3 linked regions of the Homo sapiens genome follow. The protein of the gene in region 1 interacts with the protein of each later gene in a pairwise test. Each region holds a gene or a part of one and is shown on either strand. Other genes may lie near its edges.

The links.
Region 2: the proteins of NECAB2 (region 1) and PRPF18 interact in binary tests that used the Homo sapiens proteins (3 or more experiments, as listed by UniProt).
Region 3: the proteins of NECAB2 (region 1) and C1orf216 interact in binary tests that used the Homo sapiens proteins (3 or more experiments, as listed by UniProt).

What each region holds. Positions count from the first base shown.
Region 1 is NC_000016.10:83,992,229-83,999,251, reverse strand, and holds part of NECAB2 (N-terminal EF-hand calcium-binding protein 2), read right to left. Parts: intron 4,951-7,023; coding exon 4,832-4,950; intron 4,644-4,831; coding exon 4,564-4,643; intron 2,037-4,563; coding exon 1,983-2,036; intron 1,048-1,982; coding exon 935-1,047; intron 1-934. UniProt on the Homo sapiens protein: May act as a signaling scaffold protein that senses intracellular calcium.
Region 2 is NC_000010.11:13,589,956-13,596,978, forward strand, and holds part of PRPF18 (pre-mRNA-splicing factor 18), read left to right. Parts: intron 1-1,812; exon of another isoform or gene 1,813-1,912; coding exon of another isoform or gene 1,913-1,933; intron 1,934-7,023.
Region 3 is NC_000001.11:35,715,871-35,723,192, forward strand, and holds the start of C1orf216 (UPF0500 protein C1orf216), read right to left. Parts: upstream 3,015-7,322; 5' UTR 2,837-3,014; intron 1,042-2,836; exon of another isoform or gene 631-1,041; intron 457-630; 5' UTR 452-456; coding exon 1-451.

The DNA of each region.
Region 1 (7,023 bases):
AAGAATGGCCCCTCGTGGCCACGCCGAGTCTCGGGAACGGCCGCACTCCTGCCCAGGCTACTCCTCCCCTCGTGCTACAGGTCAGGCTGTTGTCACTCAAGCCTCAGTGCACAGGGGGCCCAAGAAGACCCCTCTCAAAGACCCTGTGCTAGGACCTGGCCTGCCTGGTTCACAGCCATGTCCCCAGGCAATGGGGTGAATGAGTGTGTGCTCTGGGGATGGAAGAAAGCCCTGGGAAGGGAGTTGGGCAGAGCCTTGCTGCAGAAACGGGGGGCGGGGGACCACTACCAGCAAGAACAAAGGGCTGTTGTCTTCTGCAACCCCCTCCACTCTGGCCCTGGCCACATGCCTTAGCTTTACCAAGGAGCTACATCAGCCTGGTGGGATGAACAGGAATTTGAAGGTAAGGCCGCTTGCCCCGCCCTGGACATCTCAGCACATCAGGGGGAGAAGGGCAACTACATGACTTGGGCATTTCCCTTCAGCTACCGACTCTCCTCTCCTTCCTCAGTGGTTAACTGAGCAAATACTACATTCTGGGCCTGGACTTAAGTGTGCAGGAACCCCTGTGACAGCAGCAGCTGAGGCTGACTGAGCGCACGGGGCACACCAGGCCCAGCTGGAGCCCTTCACACTTGAGATTCACACACTTGATTGTATATGCACTCATGATCACCCCAGCAAGGAGTCCTGGGGGTGGTCCCCCCTTTACAGATGAGTAAGCTGATGCCAGGGAGATGAAGACACCTGCCACATTTGCTTGGCTGGGAGGAACCTCAGTAGAGACCTGAACCCACTTCTTACGCATCCAGCTGTGTGTGTCCCTGGGGTGCAACTTGTACTACTTAGGGCAAAGCCTAGTCCTGCCCTGTTCCTCCACTGCCAGGCAGAGCTCCCTGCCACCATCCCACCCACGCCTCGGCAGCTCACTCACTGGAAGCAGTTCCTCACGCCAGTGGTCCCCCGCAGATACTGGCGCAGAGAGTCCAGAAACTCGCTCAGTTGCTCGGGGCACACGGCCATCTCCTGCCGGACCAGCTGCAGGTGCTGCCGGGCACAGCAGGAGTCAGTGTGGGGCTCCACGTCAGGCCTTCTCCCTAAACACCCCATCAGGCCCCCATGACCTCCCTTCCTCGGTCAAAATAAAATAACCCTCCCCCACTTTTCATTCTTACCCATGAATGGATAAGAATGGACTAAAAATGGGCTAAGAAAGGACTAGAACCTCAAGAGCCCAGTGCAGAAGTAGCCCCCAAAAATGGGGAAAACAGACGAGGTTGTTTACAGAGGCCCCATCCATGTCCACAACCACCTGCACAGCCTCCAGGGCCTGGAGACACAGCACATCCACTGACAAGAAAAACTCATAGTTGATGGACTCAGCATTTTCACATCACTGTCTGGCTGATCACTTTGCTCTATGCCAAACCTTTTTTGGATCAAAGTCCAGGAGCCTCTGGGCCAGGTGTGGTGGCTCACGCCTGTAATCTCAGCACTTTAGGAGGCCAAGGTGGGCAGATCATGAGGATAGGAGTTTGAGACCAGCCTGACCAACATGGTGAAACCCTGTCCGTCTCTACTAAAAATACCAAAAAAATTAGCCAGGCGTGGTGGCACACACCTGTAATCCCAGCTACTCAGGAGGCTGAGGCAGGAGAATTGCTTGAACCCAGGAGGCAGAGGTTGCAGTAAGCCGACATCCCACCACTGCACTCCAGCCTGGGAGATACAGCAAGACTCCATCTCAAAAAAAAAAAAAAAAAAAAAAAAAAGGTCCAGGGAGCCTCAAGAAATACCCCCGGAGTTGGTGGGGTGGCTCCTGTGCCAGGGCAGGGTCTGGGTGCCAAGCGCTGGGCGACATCTCCCCTCCTGGTGGTCCCAAGCAGGGAGAGCGGGGTCAGGGGCATTGAGCCACTTGGATCTTGGCAGTCCTGGCATGGGTAGGGATGTGGTCCCAGAAGAGAGGTGGGAAGGGGCCTCACCATGTTGGTGCCATCTTCATCTGACAGGCGCTGCTGCAGGTCGAACCACAGTGCCTGAAACAATCCAGCACACAGTGATGCTAGACCCAGAGCCCCACTCCGCCCCGGGGAGCCAGGAGCTCTGGGATCCCTGGGGCTGTTGGGAGCTCCCAAGGACCCGGCCCTGTTGCACAGGGCTGGGAGACCAACGCTAGGAAGTGGCAGAGACTCCCTCTGGCCTACAGGGGGCCTAGAACATGTTGCTGGGGTGAGGATGGCTTGGGAGAGGCAGCAAGGGGGACTCCAGAGGCCTGAGTCCAAGATGCTGGGGTTTGCCACTATGATGAGCAACAGCCCTTAGATTCCCTGTAACTTATAATTCACCCCAAATCATAACCCCCAGCACCTCAGGGATCTAATGGGGTGAACTGTTCTCTCTGGTCTTCCCCAGACTCTAAGCTAGATGGTTTACAAATACACAATCTTCCAGACTCCCCAGGGAAGGTGCTGCCCCACTGTAAGTTTCGGTCTCCAGGAACCACATCTGCTCTGTTCGCCCACGACTGGTGCCCACACAGGGCTGAGCCCCCACAGAAGATCAACAGTCACTATGTCACGGCAGAGAACCCCGGCTCTGAAGGCACGAAAGCCATGTAAGTGTCAGAGCGTGGGTCTGAACCCAGTGTGTCTACCTGACGCACAGGCTCATGCTGCTGCTTCCTTCAGCTTGGGCACCCCACTAACCACCTCTGTGGCTATCTCTGTCCATCCTCCATGAGGACAGACCATCTACGGGAGTCACACAGGGCAGCCACAGGTAAAGCACGCCAGCTAATAAGGAAAACAGCAGCAGGTGGATGAGTCTGTGTAGTCACCACCGTGACGTTCTAAATGTTTGAGCAAGGGACCTTGCACGCTCATTTTGCACTGGGCTCTGTAGTAGCTGATCCTGGCAAGGGTACTGCCTTCTGGGGGCACACAGCATGAACACGCCTTGGTAAGTGGTGAAGGTGTGCCTGGCAGGAACAAGTCTGTTTCCATGGTTTTACAAGCATACGTGAGGGGTCCTGGGGCTGGAAAAGCCATAGGAGGATGAGGAGAGGCACTGTGGCCCCTGTATCTGCCCCATTCTTCTCCCAGCCAGGGGCCCCTAGAGCCTCCATCCTTCCAGCCCAGAGGCAGCTCCGGTTGGCCGGTGAAGGGCGGGGCCTGAAGCCAGGCCCGGATTGGCCCCTGCTGACCGCCCGGGCCAGTTAGAGGCTGGGGAGGAGGACCTGGTCCCACCCCGTCTCCAGGACGCCCAGGTACTCCGTGGTTACCAGCCAGCCTGGTTGTTAGGGCGACGGTGCTCTAAAAATAAGCTTCAGAGTCTCCCTCCCGAGGCGCCCGCTGAGTTGTTATGACAACCGGGCCACGGGGTCCCCTCCGAGCCGCTCCCGCAGCTGGCTTCAGGAAGGGGGTAACTCCACCTCAGCCTCATCCCTGCAGGAGGGGAAGTTTGAGCTTCCTCCCTCGGACTTCATTCCACGTCAGCCTCTGTCTCCCTCCATGCGGGGAGCCCCTTGTTCCTGCCCCCATGAATGCCTGAGAACCCCCAAACTAAAAGTAGCAATACCCTTTACAAAGGGTGTAAAAAAAATACACAAAAGTAGGAGAAACATAAAACCACCTCAATCCCAGGGTTCTGAGAGCTCAGTTACCTTGGCTTATGTGGGTATACGGGTGTGCTGTGTGCATGTGGATAGGTTTGGGTAACAGAATGCCTCATAATAATTGCTAACATTGCTAATATTAAATGCAAGCTACAGCACCGGGCCCTGTGCTAAACCGGAGACATCATTTTGGTTCATCCTAACGACACCCCTATGAGGGAGGGGTCCCATGCTCCAGGTTATTTTCTTGATTATCAGAGGAGGAATCTAAGCCTCAGAGAGGACAAGTCCCTGGCCCAGGGTCACACAGCTATGAAGTGGCACAACCAGAATTCTGACTGATACCTGAGCCCATCTGTCTGTAGGCCCTAAGACAAACTTTTCTTTCCACCAAATGGTCATATTGTGAGCACTCTATCCCGAGTCACGAAACATTATCTGAAAATGTTTTCTGTAAGGGCTGTGCCATTTTCTATCACCTGTGGACGTCCCATATCACACTTAATACATTTGCTACTGCTGGTCACTTCCTTCCTTGTTTTGAAACTCTCTCGAATCATCACGTCTCTCTTTCATCCTGGTGCTGCCTTTCGGCCAATATCTGCTCCAGCCACTTCAGAGCAAAGTCTCCTTGAAGCTAGGGCCTTGCAACACGGGACCCTGCTGACCACCCTCTGCTCCTGGAGCTGCTCCTGCTGCCTGCAGGCCCGCCTGACCCCCCAACACTCTCTCTTCCCAGGCGCCCCTCCTTGGGCCTGAACAACACGAGCATCCCCCGGGGTTTGATCCTTAGCTTCGTCCTCGGCAGCTCCACGCCCCACCTGGGGGATGTCTTTTTCATGGTTCCCTGGCCCCTCTGCAGCCCAGACTTTTGTCCTGAACTCCAGGCTTAACTCTGCACTCCCTCAGGGGTTGGAAGGAGTAGACGCCGTGGTCAGGCCAGGGCTTACTTTGCTCTCCAGCCTCCCAATCAGCTCTGCCAAGCGGCTGATCTGGGCTTCCAGACCCTCTTCCTTTGCATCCTCCGTGGCTGCGGTAGAGAAAGAGACACACAGACTTCAGTGGTGGGCAGGACGAGGGCTTCGGGGGGAAGCTGGAAACATCCAGCCCCTCCAGGGGCATCAAACTTGCTCATCTCCCCAGTCCCTGTCAGAGGACTCTCAGAACTCCTCGGGACCCCCAGCTGGTACCCCCACCAGGGCCCCCGCTTTCTCTCACCAGATGGAAGGGTCTTGCCTTGTTCCATAGCCATGAGCTTGTGGTTGGGGGCAGAGGCGGGAGTGGGGCTTCCACACCAGGTCTGTGCCGCGCTGTGGCTGGGTTTGATGTGGTTCTGTCTGCAGTTTGGATGGGAACACACACAGACCATGGCGGTGGCTTCAGGGCCCTTACCACTTCCAGCATCTTCCACAGGCATTTATTACGCAAGACAGTGGACTCACACATGCACAGAACTTGCATCATGGCCTTTGTTTTGACAGAGGAGGAAATGAGGTTCTTAAAGCAGGTGACTCAGCCAGGGCCACGCAGCTAGCTGGGCAGAGCTGGGATTCGAATTCAGCTCCATTCTAGGACCCCACGGCCTAGGCCTTTTCCCCAAGAGATTCAGTTCCAGAGTGAGGCTGAGCCAGGGACCCACCCCCACTCTAACAGCTCGAAGCTTTCGGGCACGTGTAGAGCCCAAGCTGTGGAGTGACCAAGTCCCCCTCCCTCCCTCATGATAGGCCCATTTAATGTTTGGTGCCCTCTGGGGTGGGGGACCTGGTTTCAAGACCCCCCTCCAACACATACACATAAAAGCGAGACCTAAAGAGACACTGACAGTCGGGATGTAACAGGACAGAAACTGTGATCCTGACCTGGGCCTGGCCCCATCTCCCGGCCCTGGACACCCCTCTCCTGTGCATACTCATGTGCATACACACCCCTGCGTGCCCTGACAGGCACAGCTAGCCACAGGCAGAGGCAGACACACACACACACACACACACACACACACACACACACACACACACACAGCTCACCTTGCACTGTGTCCAGCACATAGTAGGGACTCAAAAATGCTCAATGAATGACCAAATCCTCCCATGCAAAAGGATGCTGAAAAGCTCCTGGCAGACATACAGAAACACAGACACTCCCCCAGAAGACACACAGAGTGCCCTGTGCACGGCCCCAACACCCGCTTGGTCTCTGTGCATCGCGGTCTTGGTGCATTCTGGAATTTGTCTCTTGTGAACCTTGAACACTCCGCCAGGCTCTCCCCCTTGCGGAGGGAGCAAACTCGACTCCCGCCTTGGGAGGGGAGAGGCTGGCAGAGTCTTTATGGTGTCAATCATGGCTTCTCTATAAACCAGCAGGAAATTAAATGTATCCCTCAGACCATGACGGGTTGCTCAGGGCTCCCGGGTGGTGGGGTCTGAGCCAGTAGCCTGTGCTAGAGGTGACATCCTGGGAGACTGTCCTGGGGCTGGGAAACAGGATAGTCCTCAGGGACCCACAGCCTAGAGCCAAACTAGCTGAGATTTGGGGAAGTTCGAGGGAGGGGCATGTGTGGAACAGAGGTATCACGACAAGCTGCCCCGTCTGACAACATCCCCAAGTAAGGTCCCCACCATGGGGGCAGGTGGGTGTAACTGCTGACGCGTGATGGAGCTGACCCAGTGTGGGAAGTCTGCCCTGAAAACTGCGCAGCCATACTATCTGTTCTGCGGCAGGAGAAAAACAGCAAGTTTTTCATCAAGATAGTAACAGGAAAACCCAGGAAATCTAAGTGTCAGCTTTTTTCACAGCGATGGCTGCTAATTCTGGGGCACCCAAGAATCACAAGACTGACCACATGTGCAGAGTTCTGGGCTCCAGTCCAGGGATTCTAGCCAGTGAGTATGGCCAGGAGCCCAGGAATGTGTATTTTAATTTTCCCAGGTGATTCAGCGCAAATGCTCAGATCAAACTCATTTGGGAAACAGTGTCTCAGAGTTACCTTCACAATCATGTCTGATCAGGACCAGCTCTTCAACTACGAAGAAACACACGATCAAACCCCAGTCCCCCAGCAAACCAATATCCTGGTCCTGAGGTACCTCTCTGCCTGGAAAATTAAGGGCTCAATCGAGCTTGGGTGCCGACACCTGGCTGTTTCCCTCATCTGTTTGCATTTTCTCTTTTTCTTCTGTGTCAAGCACATCAGCTGTTCTGGGAAGAACTGAGCAAAGAAGGGTTTTTCTCAATTTGAAACAGCAAATGGAGGTGGGCGGGGGGACGGGTGCTCGTGTTCCCCGGGAGATGGGACTGCTGAGCCACGAGAATGTCGCTCCTCTCTAAATACCAGGTCACACCCCTAACACAGCAGCCACCACCTAGGATGGGACCCCAGATGCATTCCCATGGTTCCAAGCACACAAACAAGG
Region 2 (7,023 bases), on another chromosome or scaffold:
GAGTGCATAGTGGATGTTAGGAAGGGCCAGGGTGTTGAAATCTAAGTGCTTTAAAGGGAAAAGTGAATCACAAAATATTCAGCCCACCCTCAAGGTTCACAACATGAATATTTGCATAATCATGTTCTTCGTCATTGAAATGCACCAATCTACAAAAATGATCATTAAAAAAAAAACTTTAGATTCTTCAGGGTCATTTATAATTTATAATATATAAACTTTTCCTGGGTGTCTTTCATTTTTTAATTTGGTAGTTGATTGAATTATCACATAATTCCAGCCAGAAGATAAGATTGATTTTTTCAATCACAGAGCAGTTCAGACCAACAAAGGGCGTACATGAAATGGGAATTAAAATACTGACATTCGGCCGGGCGCGGTGGCTCACGCCTGTAATCCCAGCACTTTGGGAGCCTGGGGTGGGCAGATCACGAGATTGAGACCATCCTGGCTAACACGGTGAAACCCCATCTCTACTGAAAATACAAAAAAAAAAAATATATATATATATATATATTAGCTGGGCATGGTGGCAGGTGCCTGTAGTCCCAGCTACTCAGGAGGCTGAGGCAGGAGAATGGCGTGAACCCGGGAGGCGGGGCTTGCAGTGAGCTGATATTGTGCCACTGCACTGCAGCCTGGGCGACAGAGCGAGACTCCATCTCAAAAAAAAAAAAAAAAAATACTGACATTCATAGTTTATATTAGCAGTAATGTTAGGCATCATGCAATATGTGTTTTCTAACTTGTACAACAAGTTGCCATTGTTCCCATTTACAGATGAGGAAACTGGAAGCTAAGAGAAGTTACATGACTATAGGATTATGCAGCTAGCAAGAGATAGAGCCTGGATTTGAACCCTGGTCTGTTCCTACTTCAGAGCCTGATCTGTTAACCTGTACAGATAGAATGGATATTTATTCACCTTACAAACATAGAACTAGTTTTGATAGGGCTAATGTAACAAAGCACTGGAAAATTATTAGACTAACATGATTTATATTTTTCAAAGTGCTATATGCTATCTGATTTGAGCTTTACAACGGTTAATTAGTGCACAAGGCAATGCTGTTTTCATGGATGATGAAATTGAGGCTTAGAGGGTTACACGATGTTCTCATATTCCTGTGGCCAGCCGGGATAGATCTCAAGTCTTAGACCAACTTGAGGGTGAGTGCTCTTGCATGATGTAAGGGAACATACACAACTAGGCGTCTTTTCTGTTGTATCCATGGGAAGACAGTCTTTAGATCTGCAGCTCTATCATTTCATGCAGAATAGTTGCTTTATATTTTTCATCTTTCTGCATCACAGTGTCTGTCAGTAACTTACAGACTTTTTCACTGCCCCGTTCATAGCAATACATTTTTATATATTGATCTGATATGTATGTGAAAAAAGTTTTATGAAATAATTCTTACAACCACAAATGATTTTATCATGTTTTATTCAGTCCTCCTTTTTTGTTATCAGTTATTTAATTAGGTTCTTCTTAAGAAATGTAGAACACCAATTTGTGAGGATAAATTCCATGAGTCGGGGCAAACACAGATCGCAGGTAGTCCTGGAGCTTAGGAATAGCTTTGATTTTTGGTAAAATTTGTGACTCCACAGCTTTCTGATCAATCTTGTGCTGCTCTGTAATCTTGTATTTATCTTTTTCTGTGCTGAAGATCTCAGCTTCCTGGTGTCTGGGCTTCTGCAGCTGCTGCTGCTTGAATAAGCATCAGTGGGATGTTTTGGGATTTTTACATCGCTGATAACAATTTTGGTTGAGGTGGCAATGACAGATTTCTGGTGTTTTCTTCATAGAGGAACTCGATTGAGGACCAGAGGTCCAGTCACAAGTAACAAGCCACTAGCCAGGTGCTTCAGGAAGACCGCCCTCTTGCCTCTGTGGAATCCAGTGAGGATGATCAGAACGTTCCCCGGGGTAATGCTGGTTCGCAGTTTTCTCACGTGTCAACTGAGGGTTTTTTTTTTTTTTTGCCATGGCTCAACAGCTTTTGAGGCACATCTTCAGTAGGAAAATATCTAGGCATTTTATGAAGTTTAACCACCTGGGTACTACCATTCTTGTCACCACCAACTGGTTTTGTAACAGTTGCAAGAACCTTCTTTTTCTTTTCAACCTCGTACTTAGCGGCTGAGTACTTCCTCTTATACACAGCTTTTCTGGAATACATAGCACATCGGGAATACCTGCCAATTCCTCTGACAAGGACAGGGTTGTGCTGCAATGGGGCTTCCCCTTCTTGGGCTTCTTAGCCTTGAGGTGACCCTTTTTCACCTTGTCACCAGCCTCAGCCTTCTTGGCTTTGGGTTTCTTCTCTTTAGTATCCGGCTTCTCAACTTTTTCACCCACCATCTTACAAGATGGGGAAGAGCAAGTCCCTTTGTTTTAATTTTTTAGAAAACACGGGTCAGGGATCAGTAGATTGTTGTCATTACCGCATCTGTAGCTGGAAAACAGTTGTCTGTGTGGTGTTGCTCTTGCAGAAAGAAGAGCCACCTCATCTTTGGTCATTTCAAGTGGTGTCCCAGCTTTTTGTGGTTAATCTGTGATAGTTGAAATAATCAGTACTTAGCTTGTGAGTGCCTCTTTCTCAAATTGCAGAGAAGTGACTAAGATATCCTCTTACCACCTGTCCTAAAGTGCCCTGCCTGGTGTAACCACCCTGAGGTAAATGTGTCTGCATTGCTAGAACACCAGTGTTTTGGAGCCTAGAATTGGTGAGTTTTCATTTAATGCAAAACCTCGTGTGGAAAACCAGGCTGCTCTAGAAACTCAATGGGGAGTAATTAGTAGTTTTACTAGTTGTAGTTATGAGGATGAGCTATGTGCAGAATTTTAGCTTTTTTTCCTTCCAGTATTTACTGCATCTTTCCTATATGCAAGATACTATGCTGTGCTGCAGTAACAATGCTACAATAATCAAAACAGCATAGCGCTGGCATAAAGAGCAACAGCTAACACCACTAGAGTATAACAGAGCACCCAGAACGGAGCCACCCTTACACAATTATTGATTTTTGACAAATACACTAAAACCAAATGGAAGGAAAGATATTTTCAGTAAATGATGCTGAACAACTGGATATCCATACGGAAATAATAAGCAACAACCCCTACCCCACATTATACAAAACATTCTGAAATGAAGGACCAATGGAAGGAATGGCAGGAACCAACATGGGAGACATTGGAAAATAAAATTAGTAAGGAAAACTGTATACTAGTTCTAATACATTGGAAAATCTAAGTGAAGTAAATGGCTAAAAAGTACAAAAAAATACAAGAAATAGAAAATCTAAGCAAACCAGTAAGTGAGGAAGACATAAGAAGAATCTGTCAGCTAAGAGGAGAAAGTTACTGAAGGAAGGAAGGAATGAGCAGTTAAATCGAAGACTGGATGAGATCAGTCAGAGAAGTCTCTTTGGATTTGTATCTTAGACATTATTTATGACCCCAAGGAGGTTTTTTCAGTGAAACAGAATGGATGTCCACATGCTGTGGGGCTGCAAAGAGAATTGGGGGTAAGGAAGTGGACACGGATTAGATTAAACAGTTTAATGTGGTTCTGCTGTAAATGATACCCAGGGCAGAGTCTTGAGCATACTTAAATTATAATTGTCAAGAGCCAGTAGAGAGGGGAAGGATGAATATGCGAAGGAGAAAACAGCATTGATGGTGAGAAGTCCCTGAGGAATTGAGGTCTGGAGTAATTGGCAAGGGATTTGCCCTAGACAGACAGAGGAGGGTTCTCTGTTTCACTGTGAAATGAAAGGACCAATGAAGATCCAGCTCATGACTGGAGTTGGGAGGAATTTGGAGGAGTTCCTGACTGGTTGCTTCCATAAAATGAGATGGTTTAGTCATCTGCTGAAAATGAGGGGAGAATGAAAGGATGGGAAATTCGTGAGAATGGAGACAGTGGAATGGTCAGTGTAGACAATAGGAAAGAAAATGAAATGGGTAAATACCCCAGGACCAATAGGCAATGTTGAGGCCCCAGTGGTTTTTGCCAGCATTGTTTTGCGCATGCTATAGGCATGGAGAACGCCAAGTGGACTTAAACTTACTGGTCTCAGGTCTCATTCTCAATTATTGATAGACCCAGAGAGCTTTTATTTACATAGGACACATTTATTGATAATTACCGTATTAGAAATTAAAGCCAGGAAATTACAAAATGTATATTCCATGTAGAAATGCAATAATAAACCCATAGTATGCTAACAGATATTTTTATGAAAAGACTATATTTGCGAAAACAAACACTTCAGTGAGAAAAGTGACATTGTTTTAGAAACCTCTGGCATAGTAGTTGGATTCTATTTCTCTCTCCAGTCTGTTGCTGTATGTTGTTTTCAAGTACACGAAGAAAATTCATCCACAGATAAGTAGTTAGAAAAAGGAGTATCTTAATAGCCTTTTCAGATAATTGTGGATATTCTTCTTGATACTACACCAAAACTAGACAATTGGTTTCTTAAAGATCAGTTGCAATGTGGATTCTGAAATCATTTCAATGAACTTTTCATACATTAAAGCCTGTTCTATTTTGCTCTTTGAATGGATCTTTTTACCTAGATGTGATTTTGTAACATCTTGATTTTGTAATGTCATGGTTCAGTGAATTATGCAGATCTTCTTAATGTTGACATTTTTGATTAGATAATATTAAAAAATCTCATTAATATCACCACTGATTTCATTGGAAAAGGCTTCAAGTATTGGGAAGCTATTAAGCTCCTGGTGGTGGGTACAAGTTTTCCACTTTTCCAGTTCTCACTTGACAGCTGGAATTTTATCATCGGTGGTAAATACTATCATTGTTTTCTTTTAGCTTTAAGCTTGTTTTGTTCAGTTCTGAGAAAATGTCTACCAAACACCCAAATCTGACTAATCAAACAATTGCACAAGTGCTTTTCTTTGAGGAAACCATTCTACTTTAGTATGTAACAAAAGTGCTTTATACATTTTATTTTTTCATGCTGATTATTAAAAGGCTGTGTACTCAAAGGTTGAGATTTAGGAAAATTATGCTAATTATACTTCGTCAAGGACATTCTTAAGAGAAACTAGACTTTTTATTTTTTTGTAAGTGCATGTTGGTGAAGAATACAGTTTGAAGGCCTTGCCTTTATTTTTGCTGATGCCAGTAGTCCCCCTTCCCAAATCCTCCCCCCATGTTGCTTTTGGACTGTCAGTGCAAATCTGAGCACAATGAAAACGGGGCACATAATGTCTTAGTATATCATGAAAATAAATTTGACCTTGCAAAACCTCTGAAAGAGCCTCTGTGGACCACATTTTGAGATGTTCTAGGCTTGAGATTTTGTTAGGTGTGTTCAATGGAATTGAGACATGGTCATCAAAGATAACATAGTTAAAAAGATTGGACCATGGCCTCCGGCCTGGAGAGTGTTTTTTCCTTTCTTTCTACACAGCCCTTTCTGAGAGGATACCAATGTGTGTTTGCCAACTTATTTGAAATATGACAATTATATACTACCTAGTCAAAAACAATTTTAGATGCCGAAATAATATTTTGGGAGTGAAGAACTGTAGCTTGGAAGACTAGATCAGAACAAAGGGTTTAAGGACCAGAGTTCTAGTTGCTACTCATCATTCTTCCTGAGTTCTGGGAATGTCACCTAACCTAATTCTCAGCGTTCTCATCTCTAAAAAGGGGTTAATACTATTTGCCCCCACCGTACTCAGGGTAGTTTTGATGTTCAGATGATACCATCGGTTCCTTACCCCAGATAACATCTTCATCTTTATTTCCGTAAAACTGTGCTTGTTGTGTGGTAGATAAGTCTGGAAATGTTTATTGAATTAAGGAATGAACTTTTAGAAAAACCTTATTCTGAAAGTTTTAAACATAATACAAAAATAGATAAAATTTTATGATGAGCCCCTGTATATCCTTCCCCTGAAACATGCAGCTCTAGAAAATGACATGTTCCTTTAAAACCAAAATATGATCACACCCAACAAAATTAAAATTAGTTTGTTAATTTTATCAGATACTCTTCTCACATTCGTATATTTTCCAACTGAATTAAAATATGTACATACATTTGCTTTTACAGTTGGTTTTTCAAGTCAGGTCAACACGAAGTTCAATCCTTGCATTTGCTTATTATGAATCTTGGTTTCTTTTAATGAAGAACGTTGTCATTTTCTCAACTTGGCTGATTTTTTCCATGCCATTGACTTGCTGGAGAAACTGGGGCTAGTTTTGTAAAATGTCTTTGATTTGTGTAATTGCTTCCTGGCATATTGACACTTAGTTAATTCCTCTCTTCCCTACATTTAACAAGGATACTTCGTAGACGATGGCTGGGTAATTCCTGTAGTATAACATAGGTGGTACATAATCTTTTACTGATGTCAAGCTTGATCATTGGGTTCAAATGGTGGCAGGCTCATCTTTCCATTGTCACCATTGGCCTTTTTCATAAGGTTTTAGCATCCATTGATGATCATTGTCTGAGTGAATGAGCTTTGGAACTATGAGGTGCTAAATACTTGTGTGGAGGTAGTACACAGGTAATATTATATCATTACTGTTAATACAGTCGGGGACAGTGTCTTTATTTGAACAAAGCCATCTTTGGAATAATATCCAAGAGGCAGAGCTGCGATGGCAACAAGCCTCCAAATTACGGACTGTAGATGTAACAATAAGGATAATTTTATGTATAATGTGGAAAGGACTGACATCTTTTTAGCCACAGACAAGATTTAGAGCTTGTCTCTTTACATCAAATCATATCACAACAAATACCTTGTGAGAGGATCATTTGAACCCAGGGAGTCGAAGTTGTGGCCTTGATTGTGCCACTCCACTCCAGCCCGCGTGACAGAGAGATACCCTGTCTCCAAAACAAACAGAAAACCAGAAAAACGCACAAAAAACCCCAAATATCCTTAAATCATTTTTTAAATAAAAGAGTTCACCAAGACCACCCTATATGTAGATTATTTTAAGAACTGATTGATATAATAAG
Region 3 (7,322 bases), on another chromosome or scaffold:
CAGCCTGGGCCACTGAGGGCAGAAGGGGATCGGGAGGGCCAGGGCCTCGCGGGGTCCCACAGGCAGGCTCAGGACTGCTGCTACGGCTGTCAATGCTCAGGGAACTGCTGGCATAGCCGTTGTCCTCCAGAGGGGAGCAGACTGTGCCAGCACCACCCATCTTCTCAGGCTCAGCCCCGGGAATCTCTGCCCCCTCTGGGGGGCTGCGCACCCCTTCCTCAGGGGATCCAGGGGCCTGGAAGGCTTGGTTGTCAGAGGGTGACTCAGAGGAGCTCCTCCTCAGGATAGGTTCCACTCTGCCTGGCATCCCATGCCAATTCTCGTTAGCATCCTTGGCACTTGCCATGAAGTTGGAGTTGCTGTCTGGTTGGAGCTCGGGCTGACATAATCCAGGAGGTGGGTCCCCCAGGAATTGGCCCCCCTCAGCTAGCCCTGGCTGGATGGCGAACATCTAGCCTGTAAAGGGAAAGCAGGAGACCGAGTCACAGTAGGACAGGGTGGGGTGCCTGAAGTCAGGGCAACTTAGCTGCAGGGACAAGGCTGCAAGCAAGAGCCTGGCCACTCCCTGTCAAGCCCTTTCTCTTGACTCTGGTAACACTTCCCTTCGTGGTTTTCGTCCTCCCTGTCTACCTGTTCATTCTCAGTCTCCTGCAAAGGGTTTTTCCTCCGTCCTCAGAGCCAGGCTGTCTTCTGATTTTGTGCATTTCTCTCCAGAGGACCTCATTCTCTGCTGTAGCTTCAAAGACCATCATATGCTGGTGACTCTCAGATCTGTCTTCAGCCCAGATCCAACTGCTATCCAACCCTGCAACCAACCATAGTCTCCTCAAATTCTACATAACCAGTCCAGGCATGGTGGCTCATACCTGTAATCCCAGCACTTTGGGAGGCCGAGGCAGGCAGATCACCTGAGGTCAGGAGTTCGAGACTAGACTGGCCAACATGGTGAAACCCCATCTCTACTAAAAATACAAAAATTAGCCAGGCATGGTGACAGGCACCTGTAATCCCAGCTATTTGGGAGGCTGAGGCAGGGGAATCACTTGAACCCAGGAGGCAGAGGTTTCAGTGAGCCGAGATTGCGCCACTGCACTCCAGCCTGGGTGACAGAGTGACATCATCCCCCTCCACCACCGCCCCCCGCCAAAATTCTACATAACCAAACAAGCTCTCCTTCAGTATCCTCAGCAAGATGGCTCTGTACTCCATCCAGAAAGCTGAGAGCATCCTGGGGTCCTCACTATCCTTCCTTCTCCCATCTCATTAATAACCACATTCTGACCATTCTTCCTCTTCCAGGCCATTTCTGACCTGGATTATTGCCTCGGCCTTTTCACTGATCTCTCTGCCTCCAGTTAAAAATGTAAATTTCACTTGTCACCACTCCTAATGCCCTCCCTGAATTCCTGCTAAACCTCTACCTGGCCTACAACACCCTGTTTGATCTGGCCCCTGCTCACCCCTCCATACCTGCCTCTTGCCACTCTGCCCCTCCCATCATAGCAAACTGCCCAGAGATCTCAAAACACACCATTGTTTTTCTTACAGTATTCCTTTGGCCTACAATATCCTTCCTCTCCCCTCCCCTCAAAGCTCCTCCCTTCTCCACCCAGCAAATTCCTTTTTGTACTTCAAAATTAGCTGTAATATCCCCATGTTTCCATGTCCCCATGTCTCTGAAGCCGTCTTGATACTGCCCCAATCAATATTACATAAACAAGCACGGTTAGTTATGCCTTCCTCTGGGTCCCCACTGCGCTGGGTATACACTGTCTTATCCAACTTTGCATCCGTCCCTGGCATACATGGTCGACGATCAGTGAATGTCTATTCAACTGGCATTTTTGGTTTGTGGTAATGATCTTGTAATAGCAGTTTGTAATCTGGCTTGGACCTCCTGTATATATCCTCCATCATATTCCCCAGAGTCAGCCAGCATAGAGCCCTGAACCAGGCTGTCTGTGCATACAGGTACTTGCTAAGTGAGTGAATGGGAGAAGAGACTGCAGTGAATTTCCATGCTCAGGAATCCACTCTTGACTCCCCAGGGCTGGAAGAGCTGGGTTCTGGAAGAGCTGGGTTTGGTTCCCTTTCCTACCCCAGCCAGGGAGCCCCGCCTTCCCCAGTGACAAGCTTTTCTTCTGAGCCTGCCCCCTTCCCTCCCAATGCCTCTGGAACACAGCCACTATCTTGCGGTCCCCGTCCCTAGCTTGCTCCATTCTGAGGCCCTGGAGGGAGGGCATACCACACCACTCTTCTCTCCTCCATAACCTGCTTCTAACCAAAATTAGGATTTGAACTGACAAAGGGATTCTACTGACCAAACAGCACTGGGATTAGAACAATTGAAGAGCATGAAGAGGAAGGGTATTGTAAGTGGAGCCGGCACTGGAAGGCGCTCCATAGGTGGCATGGACCCTCCCCACCCCCAGCAATGGGCAGAGAAGTCCTGGGGAGAAGGGTGTAGGAACAGTTCGTTTCTAATCGCCCTCTAAGCAAGGCTTGTGGGAAGGTGCCTAGAGATCTCCCCTCGCCCCAATTTTTTATTTTTCCTATACTTGGATGGGGCCGTGAAGGAAGCTGGGATGGGGTGGGGGTGGCGCTAGGGATCACAGGGTTCTCAGAGATAGTAAAATGAGAACCCCGACACGCCAGGACTAGGTCTCCGCCCAAACAGGAGGCAGCCTCCTTTTCTGGCCTTGCGGGAGTGGGAGACCACCCCAGGAGACAGAGACCATCCTTCCCTAGTCTCCTCGAAGGAGGCCACTGTGACTCCCCGCTTCCCGCGGCTGAGCCCCAAGCCCCACCCCGCCTCGGGCCCCAGACTCGGACTCACGGCGTAGAGGCGCCCGCTCCGGCGCGTCTGGCTCTGGCTCCGCCCGGCCCTGGTGGTGTCTAGTCCCTGGGCTGGGGGTTCCTCGGCCTGGGCGTCTCCGCGGTCCAGGCGTGGGTGCGGGGCTCCCGGGCAGCGCGCCCAGCCCCAGTCCCGGACTGCGGAGTCAGGCGGCGTCTGCGCAGCAGGGCGGAGCGACCGGTCCCACGTGGGCCGGTTCGGTTTTCCGCGGAGCCCCGCGCCAGGCCCCTGCGCCGGAACCGCTTCGCCCCCGCGCGGGGCCGCGTTGACCCAGGCCTTCCAGGTCCGGTGCTCTCTCCTATTGGCATTCGCTGGGCCCTTCCCATCAGTTAGCCTCGCTGCAGACACCGTGCCATTTTCAAGTGAAATCTGATTAGTCACCACCTTCCGGCGTTAAACTCCTCAATGGCTTCCCCACCGCCGGGACAACCCCTAAGGCGGTAGCCGCGGGGCTCTGTGCGTCCTGCCCTTCGTCTGCCTCTCCGGCTTCGTCCTCTACCCTCCCTCTCCGCAGTTACCCTCCCACACGCCCCTTTCCGCCACGCGGCTTTGGCACGCACTGTTCCCTCGGTCTAGCATTCTCTTCCCCCTCTCGACTTACTCCTATTTCAGATCTCTTCTCGGAGAGATCTCTGACTCCCTAGATCACGTTCGTTCCCCCCTTTATGTCAGAGCACATTCCTTTTCTTCATAGCATTTATCACAATTTGGAATTATATATTCCTTTTTGTGCTTACTTGACTAAAGTCACTGAGGCCGGGTGCGGTGGCTCACGCCTGTAACCCCAGCACTTTGGGAGGCCGAGGCGGGCAGATAACCTGAGGTCAGGAGTTTGAGACCAGCCTGGCCAACATGGTGAAACCCCATCTCTACTAAAAATACAAAAATTAGCCGGGCTTGGTGGCGGGCGCCTGTAATCCCAGCTACTTGGGAGGCTGAGGCAGGAGAATCGCTTGAACCTGGGAGGTGGAGGTTGCAGTGAGCCAAGACTGCACCACTGCACTCCAGTCTGGGCAACAGAGTGGGACTCCGTCTCAAAAAAAAAAAAAAAAAAAAAAAAAAAAAGAGAGAGAGAGAAAGAAGATCCAAGCCTGGGACAGGGCTCAGGGCTGATGTCCTGTACCCGGGACGGGGGCTCTCCGCAGGACACAGAGCCCACCCATGATGCCTGTGAAGTGGGTACCAGTGCTTTTGCCCAGGTGAGGAGGAACAGCGTGATAAAAAAGGGTCTTGGGTTCCAAACTCCAGTGGATTCTTCTCAGAGCTCCACTCTACTGAAGCTTGACCCCCCTCACTCTTTTGCACCCTGGGGAAATGTGAAGTTGGGGGCCCTGTTTGGAATAAAAGAGAACAGAGTTCAGTAATTGCTGACCCTAATATATGAGGTGCCCTCTTCCAGTTTCAATTTGATTCCAAGTCACCATTCTGCAACCTAGAGACTAATTGGCAAATTAAATCACACCAAGAAATCCTATATGCAAAAACAGGGAAAATGGAAAAGAAATTTTTATGATTATGATGACTATTTTAAAAGGGAAAAGGAAATAAGAAGGAGAAGGCAGAAGTAATTCAAACTTTGCACACTCCTCCAGCTAAGAAAATACAGGTGGAGACGTCAGCCCCATTTCTACATCAGATCCTGTGGCCTAAGTCTTCTCCCTTCCCTTATCCACTTCAGGTTCCCCTGGCCTTCAGCCTGGGGTGACCCAAATCCTCACTTTTTTTTTTTTTTTTTTTTTTTTTGAGATGGAGTCTCGCTCTGTCGCCTAGGCTGGAGTGCAGTGGCGCAATCTCGGCTCACCGCAACCTCCACCTCCCGGGTTCAAGCGATTCTCCTGCCTCAGCCTCCTGAGTAGCTGGGATTACAGGTGCATGCATCACGTCAGCTAATTTTTGTATTTTTAGTAGAGATGGGGTTTCACCATGTTGGTCAGGTTGGTCTTGATCTCCTGACCTTGTGATCCACCCACCTCGGCCTCCCAAAGTGCTGGGATTACAGGCGTGAGCCACCATGCCTGGCCCAAATCCTCACTCCTAAAGGCTCTCAGCTTTGGTGATCTAGGGTTATGCAGTTCTGCCCAGACCACAGAGCCATAAAGTCATCAATTGTTTGTTCTGCCCAGAATAGCCCTTCTCCGCCTCTCTTTGGACTCTGTCTCTCCCAGCTTAACCATGTGGGTCAAATGAAAGCCTGAAGAATCCAGGGATAGGAGCTCCACTCCAGGTGAGCCAGTCAGAGTCCTTCTCTGGGATCTTCTGAAACGAAATTAAAGGAAGACGAGGCAGGGAAGAAACAGAGATGAGAGATAGTTCTGATAATGTTGCAGACCCTGTTTCCTGCATCTAAACTTATAGTTTTGTATGCCTTATTTTGCCAAGCCTAACTTGAGTGGAATTTCTTTCACCGACAATTGAAAGAATGCTGATTACTACAATAGCACAAGGTGGTGACCCCAGGGTCTCTGGGTTCCATTCACGCACCTCTCAACACTTATTAGGTAACAGTAACTCCCTTTCTCCTTGGTAGCCATGATCAGTCCAGTCTACACTGAGACCACCCCCTTCTCCTATTCCTCTAGTGCTACCAGGAGCCGAAATCCCAGGGAATCATCTTTGTGTTTCTTGGTTAGAAGAAACATTCCTCCCATGATGCTATCACCATGTTTTGTTTTGTTTTTTTCCCAAGACAGAGTTTCACTGTCACCCAGGCTGGAGTGCAGTGGCGCGATCTCAGCTCACTGCAACCTCCGCCTCCCAGGTTCAAGTCATTCTCCTGCCTCAGCCTCCCGAGTAGCTGGGGTTACAGGCGCGTGCCACCACACCCGGCTAATTTTTGTATTTTTAGTAGAGACAGGGTTTCACCATGTTGGTCAGGCTGATTTCAAATTCCTGACCTCAAATGATCTGCCCGCCTTGACCTCCCAAAGTGCTGGGATTACAGGTGTGAGCCACTGTGCCTGGCCGATGCTATCACCTTCTGACCTGCAATACCCAGAATCTCAGAGACAGGAAGAAAACTCTTAGTCCTTAGGTAAATCATATAAGGTGCCACAACCACCGCTACCTCTTCTTGTTATGCATTCTGGCCACAAAGGACAAAGCATTATATACATTGATTTAAAGCCTATATTGGGCCTGGTGTGGTGGCTCACACCTGTAATCCCAGCACTTTGGGAGGCCGAGGCAGGCGGATCACTTGAGGCTGGGAATTCGAGACAAGCTTGGCCAACATGATGAAACCCCGTTTCTACTAAAAATACAAAAATTAGACAGGCATGGTGGTGCGCGTCTGTAATCCCAGCTATTCAGGAGGCTGAAGCAGGAGAATCGCTTGAACCCAAGAGGCAGAGATTGCAGTGAGCCAAGATCGTGCCACTGCACTCCAGCCTGGGCGATAGAGTAAGACCCTGTCTCAAAAAAAAAAAATTAAAATAAAATAAATAAAGCCTATATCGTGCTCTGCAGGGCAGCACCCCAGCCTGGAATAGCTGAGTCATCAATTCCATTGTTCTAAAAAGCTAGTTATTCCTTTTTTTTTTTTTTTTTTTGAGATGGAGTCTCTCTCTGTCACCCAGGCTAGAGTGCAGTGGCATAGTCTTGGCTCACTACAACCTCCACGTCCTGGGTTCAAGCAATTCTCCTGCCTCAACCTCCTGAGTAGCTGGGACTACAGGTGCCCGCCACCTGGTGAATGTTTGTATTTTTAGTAGAGGCAGGATTTCACCATGTTGACCAGGCTGGTCTCAAACTCCTGACATCAGGTGATCTGCCTGCCTTGGCCTCCCAAAGTGCTAGGATTTCAGGCGTGAGCCACCACACCTGGCCTAAAGCTAGTTATTCCTAAATAATACAATACCTGCTAAGTCAAGTGAATTCATTTAAAGGAAATCAGATTGTAGTCTCTCTCTTTCTTTTTTTTTTCCCTGAGACGGAGTCTTACTCTGTTGCCCAGGCTGGAGTACAGTGGTGCAATCTCCATTCATTGCAACGTCCGCCTCCCAGGATCAAGCGATTCTCATGCCTCAGCCTCCTGAGTAGCTGAGACTACAGGCGTGTGCCACTGCACCGGCTAATTTTTGTATTTCTAATAGAGACAGGGTTTCACTATGTTGCCCAGGCTGGTCTCAAATTCCTGGCCTCAAGTGATCTGCCCACCTCGGCCTCCCAAAGTGTTGGGATTACAGGCGTGAACCACCACACCCAGCCTGTAGCCAGTTTTGTTAATCAAGGGCAGTGTTGTATGGAATATTCTAGCACTGTATAATTAATACAGTCAGTGCTCACACAGCAGTCCTGGTCACTCCATAATTTTCAGAGCTCAAAACCTGAAGAAAAAAAAGCTCCAAATGCAGGGATGTCCATGTCCACAGGAAGACAAAAAAGCAGCTATAGAGATGCCTGTTATTCATTTGCCAGAGGCTTTTCCAGTGAGGACACCAGAGAATAATTCACCCCCAAGTGAAAGGGT